Homo sapiens: one gene and its partners. The protein of the gene in region 5 purifies or fractionates together with the protein of the main gene of each other region. This does not show direct contact. Each region holds a gene or a part of one and is shown on either strand. Other genes may lie near its edges. The genes, in order: DSG4, NUP50, TPR, RCBTB2, REEP2, KCNIP2 and KCNIP4.

Region 1 (3,500 bases), on a different chromosome or scaffold from region 5:
ACTCTACAGCAATTGAGTAGTGGTTTCGGGTAAGCTTTGAGTTAGCGGTTCTCAACCCTAGTTGTACATAAGAATTAGTTAAAGGTCTTCCAAAATTACTCATACTAGAGTCATACTCAAGATGAGACCAAGCATCAGCATGTTCAAGCCCTTTGGTGAGACTAATGTGCAGTTCAGGGCTAAAAACCCAGTGCCAGCTGCATTTCCAGAACGTTAGCACTAAGAATTTCAAGACTTTTTCCTGACCCAGACAAAGAAAGCATGAGAGTTGTTCAACTGATGGATTGTAGAATAGGAGAGGAATACCCCTATGGACACTTGTTTTCAATGGAGAAGCCCATGGTCTATTTTAGGAGAGAGGGGGCAGTGTGATGGTAGTGGGAGGGATCTGAGCCCAAACCTATGTTCCCAAAGGGCCTCAAATTGACACTTTTGATGTTAGCTCCAAATGAGATTACACATACAGTAATTGTATTGGGTATGTGCTAAAAACACTTCATTTCATTTATTAGATAGTGCCTTTGTTAGAGTTCAGGCCTGCAATGGTACATGATCCAGCTCACATTTAAATTCACAGAAATATAGAATAGGCAGAACCATGGCCTAGGGGCTACCAATTTTAGTTTTAGTCCTTTTCCAGAAAATGCTATGGAAATGTATAACTTGACCTTTCACTGTTCATAGTGCAGATGGCAAAATTGCCAAATTAATTGTTGTAATAAGACTAAAGCTGATTTTGCAACTTTGATAGTCTCTTCTTTTGTATCTGTTTTTAATTTTTAATTTTTGTGGGTACATAATAGGTGTACATATTTATGGGGTACATTAGCTGCTTTGATACAGGCATGCAATGTGAAATAATCACATCCTGGAGAATGGGGCATCCATCCCCTCAAGCATTTATCCTTCTATTCTTTATCTTTAATTAACCCACTTAGTAAAATGCATGCCATGCTAGAGAATTAGGAAAGTATGAAAAGCAACCAGAGTGGGCCCAAAGAACTAAACAGAGTGTATTCTAGAATCTTAGAAAACTTAAGCAGTGTCTATATTTATGGATTAAAATACAGAATTGAGGTGATTATTAGGGTAACAAATAGGAAATTTCCTCTTAAGAAACACTTGGATAGCTAAACATTTTTGATAGCTTTAATTTTTCATTATAGTCTATAAACAAAGTCTTAAAATAATTGTAAATATCTCCATTAAATTTAGTGAGTATTATTTGACTTCTATTTTAAGTGTAACTGTAATAAGGATTGAAGATAGGTCCTATCTCCAGGTCCTATAGCTGAATCCTGTATTCAATCCTCTTGATAACATATATTCATGATGCGTTTAACTTACATGTATGTGTGCATCTGCCCCAACCAGTTCAAGAGTCTTAGACTAAAGACGACCTTACTTTCCTAATCTGTCAGCAAAGAAATTCAATTACCTGATCGCAAACTCCTTGCCATCTAGCGCTAAAGTTCTATGTGATTTGGTGGTGCTGTATTTATAAACTTGGATATGTATACTCAATCCCCTAAAGGAAAAAAATGAGATTTTCTTACATATATTTGTATTTTTGTTCTAAATATACTGCCACCAAATGCTCCCCAGAATGATTCATCCAGTGACTTCCTAAACCGAGCAATGTGTGTTAACTCGACATTGTCACTTTCTTGGGCAGTGGCTCCACTCTTGCTGCTCCTGTGTTGCTGCAAACAGAGACAGCCAGAAGGCCTGGGAACAAGATTTGCTCCTGTGCCTGAGGGCGGAGAAGGAGTGATGCAGTCTTGGAGAATTGAAGGGGCCCATCCCGAGGACAGGGTAAGTGGACTGTCACTCTCCAGAGAAGTGTGGAGTTTCAGTGGAAATTGAGCATGTCTTAACAATTACATGCTGCACAAAAATGAACAGATGTCAGTTTTTAAATGTTTAACATAAAGCGTTTGTTTTTAAAATGTTTATTTTTCTTTTCAGGATGTGTCAAATATATGTGCACCCATGACAGCCTCAAATACCCAGGATCGGATGGATTCCTCTGGTCAGTAGACACCAAAATCTGTTTTTCCTTTTAAATTTTTCAAAATTATTCAACCAGACCAACTTCATGTAAAAGTACCTTATGGAAAAGTCTGTCAGTCTCTTTGGGTGACAGTATAATTAGAGGGAATGTGACCTGTTTGAAGTAGCCACTTTTTTTTTCTATCTGAAACTACAGACAGTGAAGTATGACACAGCAGTTAAAAGAGCAAACTCTGGAAGCAGAATGCTTGGGTTTGATTCCCAGCTCTGCCACTTGCTTAAGGGTTGCATATCTTTTATCCGAAATGCATAGGACCATGAGTTTGAGTTTGGCTCAAACTTTTTGTACCATGATGATCAAAAAGTTTCAGACTTAGGAGCATTTTGGATTCTTGATTATTGGATTTGGGATGCTCAACCTGTAGTAATAAGTCCTTAGTCAAGACATTTAACCTCACTGGGCCTCAGTTTCCTTATCTTTAAAATTGAGCTTATGATAGTACCTACTTTAAAGTGTTGCTGTGAGGAGTAAATAATACATATTACATATGTAATATATAATACATACATATATTGTATAGATTATTTTATTATATATAACATACATGTGTATGTGTGTCTATATATATACACACACACATATATAAGTGTGTATATATACATATATCACAAAATATACGTTAGAGTAGTGCCTGGCACTGTAGTAATTATTTATAATACAAGCTGTTTTTTTTTAAAGAGCTAAAGAAAAGGCAGTAAATGTACTCTAATAATACACTGAATAACTTTTCTTAACTTCAGACAAGCTTTTGCCTCAAAAGAGTGTCGTAAACTCTCCTATCTTACCAGCCCCACGCATATCTAACAATACTGAACACACTACTTAGCTATATGGCAATGATTGCACCAAACAGAGAGGGTGCTTAATTCTGCAGTGCACGTGAGCTTTCTCTGATGGTTCCTTAGTATCCCAAGCTTGGCCCTTTGTATGCAAAGAAACTCCGTGACTGAACATCCCTGTGAGCCCAGCTCCATCCTGTTCCGGAGTGAAGGAGGACTATGAGCTCAGTTTCTGCAATCACGCCGCTGGCCTTGCTTTGGAGGGCTCCCGGCTGGATCAAGCCCGCAGCAGCCACGGCGGGAACGGGCGCCTGCTTGTAGTTCTCTTGGCTAGTTCTACACCTTTAAGTCTAGGGCGAAGTCTGTGCAAATGTGGGAAGGCCACGTCCCACCACTGACTCCCTCTGTGTAATTAATTTACTTTTATTTGGTCAACAAGCCTGGAGATGTATCGGTGTAACTTGTATCTCTCTTTGTCAGCTTTTTAGCGCCTACGCCTTGCCGGGTGGTGGTGGCACCGCAGACGGCGGCGGCAGCGTTTTAGGCAGATGCGCGCTGCAGGCAACTCCAGCGCTGTTAAACCAACATCCTCCCTTTTCAGAAATCTACACCAACACCTATGCAGCCGGGGGCACGGTGGAAGGAGG
Region 2 (3,500 bases), on a different chromosome or scaffold from region 5:
GATTTCCTTAGTCATCTGGCCTGGGGGTAACACACTGCTGATAAGGTACGACTGTAGAGTCCAGCCCTACTGGGCTTTGCGGGTGTTCTCCTCGAAGGGGGAAACAGAGATTGTAAGAAATAAAGACACAAGACAAAGAGATAAAGAGAAAACAGCTGGGCCTGGGGGACTACTACCACCAAGACACGGAGACCGGCAGTGGCCCTGAATGGCTGGGCGTGCTGATATTTATTGCATACAAGACAAGGGAGCAGGGTGAGGAGGATGAGTCGTCCAGGGGATTGACAAGGTCAAGCAAGTCACGTGATCATGGGACAGGGGCCCTTCCCTTTTAGGTAGCTGAAGCAGAGAAGGAAGGCGGCGTACGTCAGCATTTTCTTCTATGCACTTATCAGAAAGATCAAAGACTTTAAAACTTTCACTATTTCTTCTACTGCTATCTACTAAGAACTTCAAAGAGGAACCAGGACTACGGGAGGAGCATGAATGTGGACAAGGAGTGTGACCACTGAAGCACAGCACCACAGGGAGGGGTTCAAGCCTCTGGATGACTACTGGCAAGCCTGGACAATATCCAATCTCCCACAAGAAGGTGGTGGAGCAGAGTGTTCCCTGACTCCTCCAAGTAAAGGAGACTCCCTTTCACGGTCTACTAAGTAACAGGTGCCTTCCCAGGCACTGGCGTTACCACTTGACCAAGGAGCCCTCAAGCGGCCCTTATGCGGGCGTGACAGAGGGCTGGCTCACCTCTTGCCTTCTAGGTCACTTCTCACAATGTCCCTTCAGCACCTGACCCTGTATCTGCCGGTTATTCCTTGGTTATATTAGTAGTACAACAAAGAGTAATATTAAAAGCTAATGACTAGTAATGTTTATACTAATGATTGATAATGCCCGTGATCATCTCTGTATCTAATTTGTATTATGACTATTCTTATTCTAACTATTTTATGTATTATACTGAAACAGTTTGTGCCTTCAGTCTCTTGCCTCGGCACCTGGGTAATCCTTCGCCCACATCCTATAAGTACAGCTGTGTTTTATTCTTTGTTTTTTAGACAGGGTCTCACCCTGTTGCCCAGGCTGGAGTGCAGTGGTGCAATCACAGGTCACAGCAGCCTTGAACTCCTGGGCTCAAGCAAACCTCCCGCCTCAGCTTCCCAAATTGCTGTGACTATAGGCTCATGCCACCATGTTCAGCTAATTAAAACAATTTTTTGGGGGGTTGGGTGCGGTGGTTCTCGCCTGTAATCCCAGCACTTTGGGAGGCCAAGGCGGGTGGATCACTTGAGGTCAGGAGTTTGAGACCAGTCTGACCAACATGGTGAATCCCTGTCTCTACTAAAAATACAAAAATTAGCTGGGTGTGGTGGTGTACACCTGTAATCCCAGCTACTCGGGAGGCTGAGGCAGGAGAATCACTTGAACCCGGGAGATAAAAGTTGCAGTGAGCCGAGGTTGTGCCACCGCACTCCAGCCTGGGCAACAGGGTGAGACTCTGTCTCAAAAAAAAAAAAAAAAAAAAATTTTTTTTATAGAGACCGGGATCTCTCTATGCTGCCCAGTCCTACTGTTTATAAGGGAAAAATGATCAGATTTCCTCAGGGGAGACCATTTTTATTCTGCTGGAAAAGGAACTAGGCCAATCTCAATTCTATTCCTATAAATGCAATTGTTAGGGGTCTCAGGTCTACCATTAAGAAAAGGAAATAAAGCAGGCCTCCAAGAAGCATTAGGGAAACGGAGTACCACAGACCAAGATGGTGATGGTGTACCACTTTCACATCTGGGCAGTGTGCTAAGTTCATGACTACATCACTTAACTCAGCCTTCAGTCATGACTAAAATGGCTTACTGCAAACATGGGTTCAGAATGCTTCAAGTATACGAAACTCAGGAGGAAAAGTGCTTCTACTAAGGAGAATATTTAAGGAGCAGGCACTAGTGGAAAAGCACATCTAAATGTAATTAATACATTTCTACACTAACTAGAGGTCACAGAAATGTAATTAATAAATATCTACACTAAGTACAGGTCATATAATTTCTTGTCATCTCCCATTCATGATGTTCTTAGAAAGGTCTTTTAGTTCTGTCACAAGTCTTCATGAGGAACCCCAAAATGAATGTAAAAGGCAAAAGAAACAGGAAATCATTCTTAGGGAAGCTGCTTTTTACCTCTTCAGCTTCATCTTCTTGATCCCAATTCCTATCTGTCAGTTCCTTCTCGGCATTTCTTTTGGCCATGTTTTCGAACCTAAGTTATAGAAAACAGAAGAGTTTATTTTTCTAGAAGAATAAATTCTTATAAAGAATTTTAAAAATTCACTCTAGCATGAAGTGAGATAAAAACATCTCTGGTTTTTTTATCAGGGAAAAAAAGCATCTGGAAACTGCTTTAATGAGAACTTTACATTGGTGCTGTTAGGCTCCCAGTGTTACAAATCAATAAAGGCTTTTTCCAGGAGGCAGAAGAAGATTCCTAGGGAACACCAGCAGTCCTGAACAACACTAAACCGACTCCATTTGGAAAAATTAAAATGAAATATCAATTGATTTTTTAAAAATCTGGAATCTGAAGTACTGTATATATAATCAAAAAGTCCTTAACTTATTCTACGCATATACATACTGAAAGTCTTGTCATAAAGAAAATAATTTTAATATTTAAAATTCTCTTAAAGATGACCCATTAAAGAAGTGTATCTTTCAGTAAGAATACGAATAACGGGCTGGAAACGCCTCCACAACACGAATACTGTTCTTTAAGCTACAGCCGACAGAGATACATGGTTCCCAAGACTGAACATTTTGTTGCTTCAAATTGTATATTGCCAAGACAATTAGAAGTCCAAAATGATTAACATGGGTGTGTTAGTATTCTGGGAACTTATAACCTTTCAAAAACAAATCATTGGCTTAACTCTTCAATACGATGGCATTAGTGGAAGGGGCAGGAGTTGGGGAACGGCGTGAACTCTGCAGTGGATTCCGGCACCTAACCAAAGAGGGTGCTCCTGTCCATCCCTTAAAATTTACGATTTGTTTTCTGATCTTAATATCATAACAACAAAACAAAGAAAACCCACAACCCAGAGCTCCGCTATGAGTGTTGTGCTGCCTTCTTCACTAACTCTCCAGCTGGACAAAAAACCTTTCCATTTCCCCTGCTACCCACCTCGCCCAAAAACTTACTGATTAGTTTTGGGGACCTGCCAGGTCTTGTTAAACCTGCCTGAACTCCTTCGTGATACTCTCCCCACTCTTGTTTGCTCTCAACACCACAATACACCAGAGTAAGCTTCCTTATTCTGGTGTATTGTGTAATACAGAGTGTATTACAACCCCACAAAGTGGTCGCTAAGATATGAGGTGACATATCACTCTTTAGTATCTAAAAGTAAAATGCAAATGCTGGTATTCCAAAGGCCTCTACAATTTGATGGCCAGTGGAGTAATTACATACGGGCTGTCAGCTTTTAATACATTTTAGTGATTTT
Region 3 (3,500 bases), on a different chromosome or scaffold from region 5:
CCTAGAATAGAAAAGGTGGAATAAAATTTGCTCTCATTTCTCTCATCATCTGGTGCATTTTTAAAAGAATTAAGTCCTACCGAAACAAGTCCTTTAATCTTAGGAAGGTAAACTACCAACATTCCTCACATGAACTTCAACTTATTTTTATTTTATTTTATTTTTTTGAGACAGAATCTCACTCTCTTGCCCAGACTGGAGTGCAGTGGCCCCAATCTTGGCTCACCGCAACCACTGCCTCCTGGGCTCAAGTGATTCTCCTGCCTTAGCCTCCTGAGTAGCTGGGATTACAAGCATGCAACACTGCCGCTCAGCTAATTTTTGTATTTTTAGTAGAGATGGGGTTTCACCATGGTGGCCAGGCTGGTCTTGAATTCCTGCCCTCAAATGACCCACCTGCCTCGGCTTCCCAAAGTGCTGGGATTACAGGCGTGAGCTGCTGCGCCTGGCTTCAACTTATCAAACAAGCTAAACCCTTAGCACTGCCTAGAGAATCATTAATCAATATGAAAAAAATGAACTACCAGAGGTTCTCATTCTGGAACACAGTTCACAAAAAAAGCAACACTATTGCAAATTAGCTCTTGAATTTAAATGATTTGAATTGTAAAGTATAACATTTAGACTTAATTAATTTGAAACAAAAGAAAACTTACCGTTTAGAAGCAAAATCTAGCTGGGTAGAAATTTTGGTATTTTGTGATCGCAAATCTGTAACTTGTTCTTGAAGTTTCTCAAGCTGCTCATTTTGTATTTTTTCATTTTCTGCTTTTTCTTTTTTGTAGTTCTCAAAAATTTCCTGCAACTAAATATTGGAGATTATGAGAAGGTAACACTGTGTTCTCTAAAAACCTAACCCAGGACAAAGGTGTGATCTTTACCTGTTTAAGGGCAGCCTTAGCCTCTATAGCCTCTGTTGATTCAATAACAGGTACTGGAGCAGGAGTGGAAACAGTCTGTGATGTACTTGGACGTTTTGGAGTTGATGCAAGAGAAACATCATCTAAGCTTGAAGCTTCAGGAAAGTAAAGACTAATAAAATGCTTTGTTGGCTTTCATAAATCAGCTTTAATCTAATGCTTCTTTGCAAATACACTATTATCAAATAAACAAGCTAAACTTATTGAAATGAAACAATAAGATTATAGGAGTTTTTAAATAAGGAATCTACTAAACAATGTATTAAGATTTTTTGATGGTTATTAGAGATAATTCAGTATTTATGGGTTAAAACATAATCCATATTTATGTTTTATTAAAACATATCTGTTTTGGTCATTAAAACATAACCAAAATAAATACTGTAATTCATTGATTCTGAAATGCACCTTTTTCAACAATAGAAAGCATTTCTTTTTAGCAATACATAAAATAATGGTATGTTTTACAGTTGATGGGATGTTATAAGCAATTATATATGGTAGTCAAATTTGAAGCTACCATCATTAGAGTGGCTATTGCTTATGTTGCAAAATTAATCCCTTAATATACATTTCTAAATTATTCCTTAAAATAACTTTATAAAAACCTACCATGTAATGGAATGGCAACTCCTGTTGTTTGTGACAATAAAATACGGTACATATCACGCTGACGAACTATGGAATCAACAAGCTGCATTTGATGCTGTCGTGATTTGCGGAGTTGTTCTAGTTCAGTAAGGGCACTCTCAAGTTTGAGCTGAAGCTCAGTGATTCTGTAGAAAAAGTCGGCCTAATTCACAGGACTGAACTGAGAGTTAACTGATTGTAATTTCTACTGTAATTAACCAAGCATCTTTGCCTACCATTCATCATACCATTTTTGTCTCTCTCATTATTTTTTTTCATGCTGAGTATTTTATGAACTACTTTTTAAATCCCCACCACACAGGACTCAGGTACTTATACTTACCAATGCAATCTGAAAAATTTGTTTGTAAAAATTAAATCAGTTCCACTCACTCCAAACTCTAGTCTTCTTGCTTTCTTAGCCATTCTTCCTCTTCTAGAAGACATTATACATGTATTTTGAAAAAACCTCTGACTAATTCTTACATAGGTTCTCCAGGTTCTCCATGAAGCCGGTCTGCTCCCTGAAATCTAGGACAAGTCCTCTACCGCTATGATCCCACAGATAGGCACTAATCACAGTGAATGCAAATTGTCTACTTGCCTATTTTATTATCTATTTATTACATCTGTCTTACCCATAACCTGAGGTCTTGGAGTAGAAATTTTTTGTTTGGTATTGTTGCTCAATTCTTTCCTCCCTATATCACTATATCCCAAGTATCTAGCACTGTTAGGAACACATAGATTTTTTTTGCGGGCAACAGGGTCTTACCCTGTCGTCCCACTTAGAGTGTGGTGCATGATCATGCTTCACTGCAGCCTCAAACTCCTGGACTCAAGTGATCCTCCCACCTCAGCCTGTCTCCTGAGTAGCTGGGACTATAGACATGTGCCACCACACCCAGCTAATTTTTTACTTTTTTTTGAGACATGGTCTCACTATGTCGTCCAGGCTGGTCTCGACCTCCTGGGCTCAAATGATACCCCATTTAGGCCTCCCAAAACGTTGGGATTACAGGCATGAGACACTGAGCCTAGCTGAGGTTTTCATAAATGTTTGCTCAACAAGCTGAGGTATGTGACTACTTACTTGGATGAAGTTGTTTCTTGTTCTTCTCTTTCTCTGGTTTCCCCAAGCTCTCTAAGGGCCACTAAGAGACGTTGATTTTGTTGTTGAAGCTCTTCAATATTTCTGTAAGATACTAGATGCTGTGATATTACCTCAGATGAACTACTTATATCAGCAGAGCTTACTTCCTCATCACGAATTACGTGGTTACCCCTTGCTTCTTCAAGTTCCATCAAAAGCACTCTAATCTAAAAACAAAGTTTTAATATGTTATAAAATAGTATTAGTTACAATTCTGGACAAGTTTAGAATGAAAGTTTTCAAATTAAAACATTACTTATAAAACCTTCAACTTGTACTGCCTCAAATTATCTTTAAAAATAAAGCATCCTTGGATATTAAAATCTAAACAATCAAATTTTAATAGAATAAAATTACTTTTAAGTATGTATTGAAGGCTATTACTTATTACAAAGTAGCCAAATTACAATTCCCAAAACATGGCTCCAGTTTTGTAAAACAGTGATCAAATAAAACCCACAAATATCTATTTTTTTGTGTGTGCTTTTGTATATATGATAGGGCAGAGCATGAAAAATAGACATTTAAACAAAAAGCATATATATAATGCCATTCATGTGAAATTTTTACATTTGTGCATTGCGTGGATGTACACACACACAAATTAGGGTAAAATATATGAATGAGACATTAATTTATTGATTTGCTTGTTAAGTGTCAGAGTAATGCATACAGTCCAGTCTTACTTCAGTAAAATCAAATAATTCTTACATATGTTTATATATGCTCATGTATATACACATACAGAGAAGGATGTGAAAAAAATACACAACTGTCTGTTAACTTAGCTACACTTT
Region 4 (3,500 bases), on a different chromosome or scaffold from region 5:
CACATTAGCCTAAGCAACAGAGCAAGACTCTGTCTCTAAGAAAATAAAAATAGCCTGGGCGCGGTGGCTCATGCCTGTAATCTCAACATTTTGGGAGGCAGAGATGGGAGGATTAATTGAGGTCAGAAGTTTGGAGACCAGCCTGGCCAACATGGTGAAACCCCATCCCTACTAAAAATACAAAAATTAGCCAGGCGTAAGAGTGTGTACCTGTAGTCCCAGCTACTTGGGAGGCTGAGGCAAGAGAATCACTTGAACTTGGGAGGCAGAGGTTACAGTGATCCAAGATCACACCACTGCACTCCAGCCTGGGTGACAGAGTGAGACTCCATCTCAAAAAATAATAATAATAAATAGATTTTTTTTAAATAGGAGGATTAAATAACATATCCAATGAGTAGCATTTATACTATTGTACCTGTAAGAAAAATCCAAAATAGTTAAAAAAATGTTTAATATCAGTGTATTAAAATGGCAAAAATGTGCTTTCTACTTATGGTCTAAATCTGCTTACAAATGTCCCCCCTTTTCTGCATAGGAGGGCAATGTTTCTTGTAGAGCCAAGGCAGAAGCTGGCAACAGTATTGGGAAGATTTTCTTCATAGTGACAGTGTTACAGCATAAGATCATCTCATATCATCTTACTATAGGATGACAGTAATATTATCTTACTATCTTACTATGTGTTACTTTATTAGTTTTTCCCTTATATGTTTGTTTTGGGATATATGACTTGGCTCATATATATATATATATGATATATATATATATGATATATATTTATATATGATATATATATATGATATATATTTATATTAAAAGGTGCTTTGTTCTTTGCAAAACAGTCTCCTATGTTATTTCCTCATTTTATTAAAATGTAACCTAAAACTGTTTTTACAGAATCTTATTATACTAATGTTTGCCTTGCAATATAAATAGAAAATGGAATGATAAGTAACCTCTCCACGCAGAAGTTCCTGCCACTGATCTCTGTCTTTAAAGGTTCCAAATGGGACACTCGGTGGCCAGTAGTTCAAGTCTGTACAAAAGTAATGTTTCAAAGCCAAATATATATCAAGTAAGGTAATCTGTCACATGACATTTCCTATTTCAGCTGTTTTCCTAATTGTACGGTTCACTAATTTATTTTTAAAGTATCCCTGTTTGGGGCAGATAACTCCTTATTTCTATATATTCTATGTTGAGAGTTTTCTCTACACTTTTAAAAACTACACAGTTGAAGACTACTGAACAAGGGGACACTCTTTTGATAATGTGATAAACACATTCATTCTTAATCCTCACATAAAGTCAAATAATTCATTTGCCTGTACAAAAGATATAACAGGCAGTCTGTACATATTATTTGTGGCAAAGTAATCAGTATTAATCAGTGTATCTGCTACACAATGTGTTATATTACTCGGTAATACCTCTGACCTAAAAAATGAGTTAAGCTGATTATGGGACATAGGTTCATTTGCCTAATTCATTCAACAAATATTAATTCAGTGCCTGCAGTAGGCACTGAATTGAAAGCAAATACATGAGAGCAAACAGAATAACGTAGAGCAAAACAATATCCAGCTCTCTTAGGGACTTCTGTCCACATTACCCCAACCCAATGGTAGGTTTTAAATGCTGACATTTTGCAGTTAATCAGGGGCTTCTAAATGCTAATAATTCTTCTTTAGAAGTGATTACAGAAGAAGGGGTGAAAAAAAATAGCAATTCCTGCAGAGAAGTCCCAGTATTACATATTTTAAAATTCAACTTAATGAGATCAACTCTAAAGCTATGCTTGAGAAACACACTGATATTTTTAGAATTCTCTCAATATAGAACTCTATGCTTAAAATTATCCCATCTGGGTGGGTAACACATTTGATGATGCTTTTATAATCAAAAGAAACAGGAAATTAAATAATATCGATATCTTTTAGGGTACCAGCATGCAGTTTACAGCATCGGTGTGTTAATGAGCTGCAGACCACATAAATTTCAATAGGATAATGATGGTTCCCAAATATATCCTTAGGTGAGTCATTAGATAGTATCTTTAATAGCTTTTTAAGGGTCATCTTCAAGTTATAAATAATATAAATACGTATACAATAAAACATGATCCCAGTTTTCACTTGCAAAAAGGGATAGTGTTAGCTGTAATATTAGCTCCACTTAAATGAGATGTCTAAAATCAATGACAAGTAACAGTAAAATACCTACATGGCTAATTAAAATGGAACAATTATAAACAGGACGGACAAAACTAAAACACTAAAAGCATAACTAAAACTAGCACACAACCTCAAAGGAAATGGTATTGTCATATGTTCATGAAAAACAGAAAACTGTTGTGTAGAATACAGAAACCCTGTTGCTATTTTAATTATTTGTTTTTTTAAAAAGTTTTCCAAATTTCAACAAGAGTGATGAGTCAGATCTTCAGTACAAAGCAAAGCGGTATTTAATTGAAAAGATTACTGAGCTTGACAACTTCAGTCTTTTCAGCCACACACGGCAAAAGTGTCATTTTCAAATATGAAAAATAACCAACATAAATGATAAAAATATTTTTAAGTTGTTATATGCACTAATGTGAGTTGAGATTTGAGATCTCATTTGTAAATCCATTTTAAATCTCGGTCCTTATAGATTTAATCCAATTTTTCAAAAAAAAATCTTAACACGCCTGCTACAGAGATCCTAATTGTTAAAGATCTTTGACCCACAGCATATATATTCCTTCAACATGGCAGGCCCTCTTGGCCTTGGCTCATTTCCACTTGAGATTGGTTTTGTTCAGTATTATATACATACATACACGCAGCATAATACAGGACATATTATAATGCAGTCAAAATTTATGTTTTATTCACATACTATCTCCTACTGGTACTTGTTAGCTCAAAACATCTTCCATAGGGAGATATACATAAGAGATATTAGCTCAGGCCAATTAGCAAGGCTGAAGACGTAAAAGAAACCCACTCTAATGTCAAATTAATGCTGAAAAATTATTATGGTTTAAGTTTCCTGGAAACTTTCACGTTGTTAGAATGTGATCACCATGTGAACTAGATACATGTTCCTTCCAGACAATGAAAGCTGGAAGTATCATCTCAGCCTTCCATTGATGGACATTATCAATATCCCTTACCAGGAGGCAAGCCATCCACTCCTTTGAAGTAAAATCTCCAAGTAGAACTCTCTTTTAGTCTTTAACAAGAGTCCTTAATGTCACTCTGTAACCCCAATAATTCCTGGTCTCCAATCTACCTTTTCCTGGACAATTTTAATCTGTAGCAATATTTATTTATTTATTTATGAGATGGGGTCTTACACTATTGCCCAGACTGGAGTGCAATGGTGTGATCATGACTCACTGCAGCCTCAACCTTCCCGGCTCCAGTGATCCTCACACTACAGCCTCCCAAGTATCTGAAACTACAGGTGTGTGCCACCATGCCTGGCTCATTTTTTTTTTGTTCGTTTTTCTG
Region 5 (2,705 bases):
GTTTGTTTTTTGTTTTGTTTGAGACGGAGTCTTATTCTGTCACCAGGCTGGAGTGCAGTGGCACGATCTTGGCTCACTGCAATCTCTGCCTCCCACGTTCAAGCAATTCCCCTGCCTCAGCCTCCCAAGTAGCTGGGACTACAGGCACGCGCCACCATGCCTGGTTAATTTTTGTATTTTTAGTAGAGATGGGGTTTCACCATGTTGGCCAGGATGGTCTTGATCTCCTGACCTCGTGATCTGCCCGCCTCGGCCTCCCAAAGTGCTGGGATTACAGGCATGAGCCACTGCGCCCAGCCTAGGCCTCTGGTTTTATCTTGAGTCCCAAAACCATTTTCCCAGACTGAGCCCCCTCAAGCCCATCTCTTAGCTGGGCACCAGAGCTCCTGTCAGTCACAGGCTGGCCTCCCCACTCCCCCAGCTGAACCCTGCTTCTCACTTGAGGTCCTTCCCACCTGTCAGCTGGTGTGGCAAGAACAAAGCACAGAGGCCAAAATAAATGAGGTGCCAGAGTTTGGTTTATTGGCTCATCCAGTGCCAAAGGTCCAATGGGCACCCTCTTCCCAAGGAACCGGGAGCCCCGCGGCTCCTGCATTTCTCTTTCTCCTTCACGTGTTCCTCCTGGCCCTGACTGAAGCCGTGGCAGAAGCTGGGGCGGGTGTGAGCAGAGGCTGGGTTCTGCCAGGGGTCTTAGGGCCCAGTCTGCTTGGTACAGGATGGGGACCCTGGGCAAGAGGGGATGGACCCCAGGGGCAGAGGAGAGGGGCCCACTCAGCAGGGGCCTGTACCAGACAGAGCAGGGGTGGGCCCTGAGGAGCACGGGAGTCCAGCCCAGGGGCACGGTGGCAATGGGGTGACCTAAAAGGGAGCAAGGTCATAGGAGCAGGTGAGAGGCCCCCCAGATCCCCGTTCTCTCATGGGCTGGGTCCTCTGAGGCTCAGAGCCTAGGATGGAGGGTTGAGCAGGGAAAGGGCCAGATGACTGTGGGGCTCAGGGTGGGAGGAGGCGACTGCTGGAGGGACAGTCCTTGACCCAAACTACCCCGAGCCCTAGACCCAGAAAGACACACTCACACAGCCCTGGACCCCCCTTTTTAATGTGGGAACATGTGGCACTCAGCCCCACCCAATGACCAGGAAAAGAGCCCCCAGCTGCAGCTCTGGCCTGGCCATCCTGGTCGCTGAAGCACAGGCCAATCCCTGTCTTCCATCCACAGCTGCACCTGGAGGCCCCACCCAGGGTCCCCAACGTCCTCCCCGTGTGCTCCCTTTCCCCCATGTGCCTTCAGGCCCGTCCTTGGTCCATCTGGGCTAGGACTTCCCCCTCCCTGCTCCCAAACCAAGGCGAGCAGTGGAAACACGACAGGACCTCTGAGAAGCGGATTGCTATGGGCTTCAGCAAGGCACTGGGTGGGTGGGGCAGGGCGGGGCTGCAGCGGAACAGCGGTGGAGGCCGAGCAGTCCCCACCTCCTTGGGTGGCTCAGTCCTCAGCCTCTGGTCCACCCTCTACCCTCAACCCCCACAGCTGGGCCTCCTTCCTCTTTTCCAAGCCCCTTCCAGAAGAGTGGCCACTGGGCAGGCACCGGAAATGGCCATCTGCGGGGCCCAGGGGCCTGAGACACCTAGGCTACTGGCACAGTGTGGAGCAGGGGCTGGGTCTGAGGCCCCTCCTGAGGCTTCATCCTTGCTCTGCAGCCTGCGGGGGTGGAGGGGCTCAAGCTGAGTCGCCCCCGCCAGAGGTCTTCTTCTTGGGCCGGGTCTTCAGTGTCTTGGAAGCCAGTGGCTGTGGAAAGAAGGAGGAAGATGGGGCTCAGCCTGGAGCCGCCACCCCCTGCCTGTTTCCCCAAGCTCTGGCCAGTGCCCTCACCTCAGCTTTGGGCGCTTTTTTGATGGGTTTGGCCCTCTTGGGAGCTTTGTCTCCCATGTCATCCTCAGAAGCCTCTGTCCGGGAATCTGCCGGGTTTGTGCTGGACCTTAGACTCAGGGCAGGGTCATCTCCTGGGTGCAGGGAGAAAAGGAGGTGGGGGAATCTTTCCCATCTGGACTCCTTGCCCTTGGGGCCCCACCCCAACCCCGGGCCCTGCCTGTACCTAAGTCCTCGATGGTGTCCAGGAGGCTGCCAGGGCTGGGTCGGAGGCGGCCGTCAGGCCTCTGCAGGGGCAGTGCGTCCTCGTCCCGGATCAGGGTCAGGTCCTGCATGCTGAAGCTGCGGAGCTTCTCTGACAGCACCCCCTGGCCCTAGGGTCACCACCACGCACCGGGAGAGCCGGGGGGAAGGGGCGGGGTGGAGATAGAGGTCACCATGGTGCTGGCAGCAGCCCCAGGCTCGGTGCCCTCCCCACACTGTCCTCACCCAGTCCCACACAGACAGAGCTGAGGGCTGGGGCAGGGCCACACTTTGCCTCTGGGGACAGATGGGGAAATGGCCGGACAATCAAAGTGACTCGGCCAGATAGCAGTAGAGCCTGGACTGGAGCCTCCAGCTGCATGAGCCCAGAGTCTCTACAGCCCCGAGTACAGGGTGGATGCAAAGGGGCCTGGCCAGGGCCCTTTGTACAAGGTAGGGGCCCTGGGAGTCTGAGCCTGCCCCCATCTCACCTTGGCGGCAGCTGTGACTGCAGCATTGGCGGCAAGGTTCAGGCCCCTCTTGCCCACCCTCATCATGGTCTCATAGCTCTTGTCTCGGGCCTGCGTGATGTACTCGT
Region 6 (3,500 bases), on a different chromosome or scaffold from region 5:
ACGCCAGGGTATTTGGGTTTTCTGTGCCAGCCTGGTCCCCTGCTGAGTGATCTCCAGTTGAGTGACCTCGCTTTGTCTCTAGGTCTCCATTTCCTCAGTTGGGCCTTGCCCACCTCATAGGATCATACTGCATTTTGCAAACCATAAAGGCCCGCTTTGTAGTTATTTGAGCATGCTGTTGTGTTGGACTTAGATGGGTCCCACACGGGGGTGGATTCGGAAAAGGACAGGCGTGAGTCCCGCAAGCTTGTGTGCATGGGGTCCGTTTCGTGTGTGTCTGTGCTGGTTGGGTGTGCCTTTGCACGGGCTGGGTTGTGAGGTTTGCTCTGAGTGTGAGGGGCCAGGTGTGTGTCTGCAGTTGGCCGGGTCTTCCGCTTTCTCGGTGACAGTTCGCTCCCTTCAGCATTAGCCGCCCCAGCCTCCCTCCGCCCCCACAGACCCCGCCTGCTGGACCCAGGTGACTTACGCTCCTGGTGGGGGCGGGGCGGGGCAGGGCGGCTTTGCCATCTTGGGGTGGGGGGCACTTGCCTGGGGGCTGGACGTTGGGGGCGGGGCAGGATTGAGATGGGGCCGGGGGTGGGGTCTGGATGGAGGTTGGCTGAGCTGGGCGGGGCATGGCTCAGGCATGGCTGGGATAGATGGGGCTGGGCGGGGCGAGGGGAGGGGCTGGGTGGGACGAGGGGAGGGTTTGGGCGGGGCAAGGCTGGGGCTGGGCGGATCTGAGTTGGTCCCCGAAGGCCCGGAGCTCTGACCCTCAGACGCCCCCTCTTGAACTGGCTTTTCCCACTCCTCCCTTTCTAAAACGAAGATGCGGCTGGGGGCCTTCCCCTCCAACGAGGGATCGAGGGCCGCGGGGCGAGCACTGAGTCGGATCCCTGGCTCTGGGGCCAGGCCAGGCCTTGGCCCGCTGATAGACCTCGAAGATGGCCATCATCTTTTCTCCTTACCTCAGTGTCCTTGGCTCGGGGCCCAGGGAACTGGCAGCCTGGTCTCCGGCATCGGATGGGACCGGGGGGCGGGGAGGGGGTGAATGGGGCAGTGATTTGAAGAGGGGTCGCGGAGGCTGGGCCTGAGGCGCGGCTGTCCTCACCGCTCCCGCAGACAGCGTGGACGATGAATTTGAATTGTCCACCGTGTGTCACCGGCCTGAGGGTCTGGAGCAGCTGCAGGAGCAAACCAAATTCACGCGCAAGGAGTTGCAGGTCCTGTACCGGGGCTTCAAGAACGTGAGTGCAAGGCGAGGCCAAACTCAGCGAGGGTGGGACAGGAGGACCCAAGCCGGTCCACAGCTTCCCAGAAAGCATGGCTTGGATGCTTGAGGTGTGGGCGGAAGGGAGGCAAGGCCCTGAGACTGAACTTCTAGCTGGAGGTTCTGGGGCGGGGCCAGAACGGAAGTGGCGCCTGTAGACTGTCAGTTTCGTTCCATGTTTTTTATTTGTGCACTGGGAAAGAAGTCTTCCCTCCCATCACATGAGCCACGTGGTGAGTCCTCTGGAGGCTTGAAGATTATCCCCCTCCCTGGGAGTCTTGGGCCATGGAGGGTGGGGGCGGTGAACGGAAGGGGATTTTGTCTCTGCCCTCAGCCTGGTGCCCTCTCCTTCCAGGAATGTCCCAGCGGAATTGTCAATGAGGAGAACTTCAAGCAGATTTACTCCCAGTTCTTTCCTCAAGGAGGTGAGGGGACAAGGCCCAAGGGGAAGCAGTTGTCCTTCTCTAGGCTGAGGGAGGGAGGGATTCTGGAGGAGCTGGGAATGCCAAGGTGATGGGGGGTATGGGGAGCTCCTTAGAGGGAGGAAGTCCTCTCCTGTGTGGAAGCCAACTTCTCCACACTCACCCTGCAGACTCCAGCACCTATGCCACTTTTCTCTTCAATGCCTTTGACACCAACCATGATGGCTCGGTCAGTTTTGAGGTGAGCTGGGCGAGGTGGGCCAGGGAAGCCTGTTTCCTGGAGTTCAGGGCCAGGATCTCCAGGCCAAACCCAGAGAAGGAGTTGGGTGAAGAGTACCCGAGGACACAGCTCCCTCCTGCCTCCTTCCCAGGACTTTGTGGCTGGTTTGTCCGTGATTCTTCGGGGAACTGTAGATGACAGGCTTAATTGGGCCTTCAACCTGTATGACCTTAACAAGGACGGCTGCATCACCAAGGAGGTGCAGGGCAACTGAAGGGCTGGGGGTCTGTGGCGGTGATGGGGGTGGCGTGCAGAGGGTGATGGGAGGGAAATATGACCCACATATGCCCACAAGCAAGGGATCAAGGGAGGCTGGAGGCTCTGAGGAAGGATCCTCTTCTCTCTTGGCCTAACAGGAAATGCTTGACATCATGAAGTCCATCTATGACATGATGGGCAAGTACACGTACCCTGCACTCCGGGAGGAGGCCCCAAGGGAACACGTGGAGAGCTTCTTCCAGGTACTTGGGAGTGGGTAGGCTGGAGGGCCCTGGAGTGAAGGGAAGAAGGCCAAGAACCAGCAGGGAACTCACCTGACTTCTGTCTGCCTCTCTCTTGCCATCCCTCCTGTTCTCCCTGCCTGACCACCTTCTTGCAGAAGATGGACAGAAACAAGGATGGTGTGGTGACCATTGAGGAATTCATTGAGTCTTGTCAAAAGGTACAGCTCCCTGCCCTCTACATTACCCTGACCTGGACTCAGGCCTGATTTAGTAATGCAGGGAAAAGCTTCTTTGGGAAGAATACCACCTTCCCACCTCACCCCCATATTTCAATCCTATTCCTTTGTGGGAGGCTTACCCCTTCCCTACCTCAGGTCTCTCTGGGCATCTCCTTCCTCTGTGCTTTTGAATGTCCCCGTCTGTGACTCAGTGTCCCTCTCACTGTCTCTGATAAGCTCCTTCTCTTTCTCTCTCTTCAATCTGCCTCGCTCACATCATGGCCACAGGATGAGAACATCATGAGGTCCATGCAGCTCTTTGACAATGTCATCTAGCCCCCAGGAGAGGGGGTCAGTGTTTCCTGGGGGGACCATGCTCTAACCCTAGTCCAGGCGGACCTCACCCTTCTCTTCCCAGGTCTATCCTCATCCTACGCCTCCCTGGGGGCTGGAGGGATCCAAGAGCTTGGGGATTCAGTAGTCCAGATCTCTGGAGCTGAAGGGGCCAGAGAGTGGGCAGAGTGCATCTCGGGGGGTGTTCCCAACTCCCACCAGCTCTCACCCCCTTCCTGCCTGACACCCAGTGTTGAGAGTGCCCCTCCTGTAGGAATTGAGCGGTTCCCCACCTCCTACCCCTACTCTAGAAACACACTAGACAGATGTCTCCTGCTATGGTGCTTCCCCCATCCCTGACCTCATAAACATTTCCCCTAAGACTCCCCTCTCAGAGAGAATGCTCCATTCTTGGCACTGGCTGGCTTCTCAGACCAGCCATTGAGAGCCCTGTGGGAGGGGGACAAGAATGTATAGGGAGAAATCTTGGGCCTGAGTCAATGGATAGGTCCTAGGAGGTGGCTGGGGTTGAGAATAGAAGGGCCTGGACAGATT
Region 7 (3,500 bases), on a different chromosome or scaffold from region 5:
TGAAGAGAAAATATTTCAACCAAGAACTGAATTGAATAAAACTTTCTCAGAAACTCTTTGTTTAATGGGCAATCACAGTATGCCAGCATGGGTGTGCCACAGAGAATCAAAGTCCACAGATACTGATTATATTCCTATCTGGGAAGGATCAGTATGAAATATACATATGATGGGGCTCTCATAGAATGGGATATTTTCCCCCTTTTCCTCTCATTTCTCAATGCTCCTCTGGGAATTGTGTGAAGGTAAAGTCAAAAAGAAAGTTCTTACATTCTTAAATCCTCTGTAAAGGATCTGAAGCTCTTTCTTGGTAAATTTGCTCTGGGCTTCCAGAAGCTCAAGGGCTTCAGGCCGATGCCTGACGGTGGCCATCTCCAGTTCATCTTCCACGCTGTCTGTGGAGGAAAACAAGAAAGAGTCTTAGGACCAGCCACTGCTCACCGATGCTTACACAGAGCAACAAAGGAAAACGGAAGAACATGTCTGCTAATGTCTGTGACTGTCCACAGAGGAAGGACCCTCACAATGCCTATAAGGCCTTTACATTTCCCAGTTTAAGCGTATTAAGCTAAAACACTTGTATATGATTTTTTTGCATATTCTTGTCATTAATGTAGATATTACAACCCTAGCATTGTTTTAAGACAACAAAAAAGAGCACAGGAATTTATTTCAGATAATCAGTGGATTATATGATTACGTCAAACAAAAAGTTTAAGTAGCAATATATATTACTCTATAAATCTAACAGTAACATATATTTCTTTTTTCCCCAACGTTTAAGTTCAGAGGTACATGTGCAGGATGTGCAGGTTTGTTACATGGGTAAACATGTGCCATGGTGGTTTGCTGCACAGATCATCCCATCGCCCAGGTATGAAGCCCAGCATCCATTAGCTGTTCTTCCTGATCCTCTCCCTCCCCCAACAGGTGCCCAGCATGTGTTGTTCCCTGGCAGTGTCCATGTGTTCTCATCAATCAGCTCCCACTTACAAGTGAGAACATGCAGTGTTTGGTTTTCTGTTCCTGCATTAGTTTGCTGTAGAGAATGGCTTCCAACTCCATCTATGTGCCTGCAAATAAAATGATCTCTGTCCTTTTTATGGCTGCATAGTATTCCATGGTGTATATGTACCACATTTTCTTTATCCAGTCTATCATTGGTGGGCGGTTAGGTTGATTCTGTGACTTTCCTATTGTGAATAGTGCTGCAATGAACATATGCAGGCATGTATCTTTATAATAGAATGAATTATATTCCTTTGGGTATATACCCGGTAATGAGATTGCTGGGTCAAATGGTATTTCTGCCTCTAGGTCTTTGAGGAATCACCACACTACCTTCCACAATGGTTGAACTAATTCACACTCCCACCAACAGTGTAAAAGTTTCCCTTTTTCTCTACAACCTCACCAGCATCTCTAGCATTTTTAAGGTATAGTTAGAAAAACATAGAAGATCACAAATAGTCCAACCTGGAATTTGTTTCTATATAACAACCACTAGTTATAAACAATGGAATTGTCATTTAATAATAATCAGTTTTGTGCCCTATGTAAAATGCAACTACAAGATAGCCTCTGATAATGTTCACTAAGGATTCCAATGAAATCAGATATTTTGCACAGCTACTTGGGAGGCGGAGGTGGGAGGACTGCTTGAGCCCAGGAGGCTGAGGCTGCAGTGAGCAGTGATGGCACCACTGCAGTCCAGTTTGGGTGACAGCATGAGACCCTGTCTCAAACAAACAATCAAACAAACAAAAAAAATAGAACCTTAGACTCTCAGAATGGAAGGACATCTGAAGAAAGATATAAGGAGATAGAGAAAGAAGGAAACCTCCCTAATTCATTCTATGAAGCATCACCCTAATAACAAAACCAGCAAATGACATAACCAAAAGAGAACACTACAGACTGATATCCTTGATGAACATAGATGTTAAAATCCTTAACAAAATACTCACTAGCTGAATCCAACAACATATCAAAAAGATAATCCACCATGATCAAGTGGGTTTCAAACCAGGAATGCAGGGATGGTTTAACATACGCAAGTCAATAAATGTGATATACCACATAAACAGAATTAAAAACAAAAATCACACGATCATCTCAGTAGATGCTGAAAACCATTCAACAAAATCCAACATTCCTTTATGATTAAAACTCTCAGCAAAATTGGCATACAAGGCACATACCTTAATGTAATAAAAGCCATCTATGACACACCCACAGCCAACATAATATTGAGTGGGGAAAAGTTGAAAGCATTCCCTCTGAGAATGGAAACAAGATAAGGATGCCCACTCTCACCACTCCTCTTCAACATAGTATTAGAAATCCTAGCCAGAGCAATCAGACAAGAGAAAGAAAACAAGGGCATCCAAATTGGTAAAGAGGAAGTCAAACTGTCATTGTTTGTTGATGACATGATTGTTTACCTTGAAAACCCTAAGGACTTCTCCAGAAAGCTCCTAGAACTGATAAAAGAATTCAGTGAAGTTTCTGGACAGAAAATTAATGTACAAAAATCAGTAGCTCTTCTATACACTAACAGTGACCAAACAGAGAATCAAATCAAGAACTCAACCCCTTTACAATAGCTGCAAAAATATAAAATACTTAGGAATATACCTAACAAAGGAGTCAAAAGACCTCTACAAGGAAAACTACAAAACACTGTTGAAAGAAACCATAAGTGACACAAACAAATGGAAACACATCCCATGCTGGGTAGAATCATGGATGGGTAGAATCAATATTGTGAAAATGACCATACTGCCAAAAGCAATCTACAAATTCAACATAATCCCCACAGAATACCATGATTATTCTTCACAGAATTAGAGAAAACAATTCTAAAATTCATGTGGAACCAAAAAAGAGCCCGCATGGCCTCATAGAAAAAGCAAGACTAAGCAAAAAGAACAAATCTGGAGGCATCATACTACCTGATTTCAAATTATACTATAAAGCCATAGTCACCAAAACAGCGTGGTACTGGTATGAAAATTGGCACATAGACCAGTGGAACAGAATAGATAATTTGGAAATAAACCCAAATACTTACAGCCAACTGATCTTTGACAAAGCAAACAAAAACACAGAGTGGGGGAAAGGACACCCTTTTCAACAAATGGTGCTGGGATAATTGGCTAGCCTCATGTAGGAGAATGAAACTGGGTCCTCTTCTCTCACCTTATACAAAAATCAACTCAAGATGGATTAAGGACTTAAATCTAAGACCAGATACTGTAAAAATTCTAGAAGATAACATTGGAAAAACCCTTTTAGACACTGGCTTAGGCAAGGATCTCATGACCAAGAACCCAAAAGCAAAAGCAAAAGCAATAAAAACAAAGATAAATAGCTGGGACCTCATTAAACTAAAGAGCTTTTGCATGGCAAAAGGAACAGTCAGCAGAGTAAACAGACAACCCACAGAGTGGGAGAAAATCTTCATAATCTATACATCTGACAAAGGATTAATATCCAGA

What was found.
Region 1: the proteins of REEP2 (region 5) and DSG4 purify together in Homo sapiens (affinity purification with mass spectrometry; 2 studies listed by BioGRID and IntAct, with this or other methods). This does not show direct contact.
Region 2: the proteins of REEP2 (region 5) and NUP50 purify together in Homo sapiens (affinity purification with mass spectrometry; one large-scale study listed by BioGRID and IntAct). This does not show direct contact.
Region 3: the proteins of REEP2 (region 5) and TPR purify together in Homo sapiens (affinity purification with mass spectrometry; one large-scale study listed by BioGRID and IntAct). This does not show direct contact.
Region 4: the proteins of REEP2 (region 5) and RCBTB2 purify together in Homo sapiens (affinity purification with mass spectrometry; one large-scale study listed by BioGRID and IntAct). This does not show direct contact.
Region 6: the proteins of REEP2 (region 5) and KCNIP2 purify together in Homo sapiens (affinity purification with mass spectrometry; 2 studies listed by BioGRID and IntAct, with this or other methods). This does not show direct contact.
Region 7: the proteins of REEP2 (region 5) and KCNIP4 purify together in Homo sapiens (affinity purification with mass spectrometry; one large-scale study listed by BioGRID and IntAct). This does not show direct contact.

Annotation. Positions count from the first base shown.
Region 1 is NC_000018.10:31,407,777-31,411,276, forward strand, and holds part of DSG4 (desmoglein-4 isoform 2 preproprotein), read left to right. Parts: intron 1-1,675; coding exon 1,676-1,815; intron 1,816-1,968; coding exon 1,969-2,032; intron 2,033-3,333; coding exon of another isoform or gene 3,334-3,454; coding exon 3,455-3,500.
Region 2 is NC_000022.11:45,166,925-45,170,424, reverse strand, and holds part of NUP50 (nuclear pore complex protein Nup50), read right to left. Parts: intron 2,260-3,500; exon of another isoform or gene 2,258-2,259; 5' UTR 2,248-2,257; coding exon 2,179-2,247; intron 1-2,178. UniProt on the Homo sapiens protein: Component of the nuclear pore complex that has a direct role in nuclear protein import. Actively displaces NLSs from importin-alpha, and facilitates disassembly of the importin-alpha:beta-cargo complex and importin recycling.
Region 3 is NC_000001.11:186,354,754-186,358,253, forward strand, and holds part of TPR (nucleoprotein TPR), read right to left. Parts: intron 2,871-3,500; coding exon 2,644-2,870; intron 1,697-2,643; coding exon 1,533-1,696; intron 1,016-1,532; coding exon 882-1,015; intron 806-881; coding exon 657-805; intron 1-656.
Region 4 is NC_000013.11:48,526,581-48,530,080, forward strand, and holds part of RCBTB2 (RCC1 and BTB domain-containing protein 2), read right to left. Parts: exon of another isoform or gene 1,124-3,500; intron 1-1,123.
Region 5 is NC_000005.10:138,444,761-138,447,465, reverse strand, and holds the end of REEP2 (receptor expression-enhancing protein 2), read right to left. Parts: coding exon 2,599-2,705; intron 2,239-2,598; coding exon 2,091-2,238; intron 1,999-2,090; coding exon 1,868-1,998; intron 1,784-1,867; coding exon 1,715-1,783; 3' UTR 501-1,714; downstream 1-500. UniProt on the Homo sapiens protein: Required for endoplasmic reticulum (ER) network formation, shaping and remodeling. May enhance the cell surface expression of odorant receptors.
Region 6 is NC_000010.11:101,826,801-101,830,300, reverse strand, and holds part of KCNIP2 (A-type potassium channel modulatory protein KCNIP2), read left to right. Parts: intron 1-358; coding exon of another isoform or gene 359-403; coding exon 404-457; intron 458-1,101; coding exon 1,102-1,226; intron 1,227-1,411; exon of another isoform or gene 1,412-1,583; coding exon of another isoform or gene 1,584-1,604; coding exon 1,605-1,674; exon of another isoform or gene 1,675-1,841; coding exon 1,842-1,912; exon of another isoform or gene 1,913-2,042; coding exon 2,043-2,150; intron 2,151-2,307; coding exon 2,308-2,412; exon of another isoform or gene 2,413-2,441; intron 2,442-2,549; coding exon 2,550-2,612; coding exon of another isoform or gene 2,613-2,660; intron 2,661-2,900; coding exon 2,901-2,948; 3' UTR 2,949-3,030; coding exon of another isoform or gene 3,031-3,093; 3' UTR 3,094-3,500. UniProt on the Homo sapiens protein: Regulatory subunit of Kv4/D (Shal)-type voltage-gated rapidly inactivating A-type potassium channels. Modulates channel density, inactivation kinetics and rate of recovery from inactivation in a calcium-dependent and isoform-specific manner.
Region 7 is NC_000004.12:20,850,273-20,853,772, forward strand, and holds part of KCNIP4 (Kv channel-interacting protein 4), read right to left. Parts: intron 396-3,500; coding exon 271-395; intron 1-270.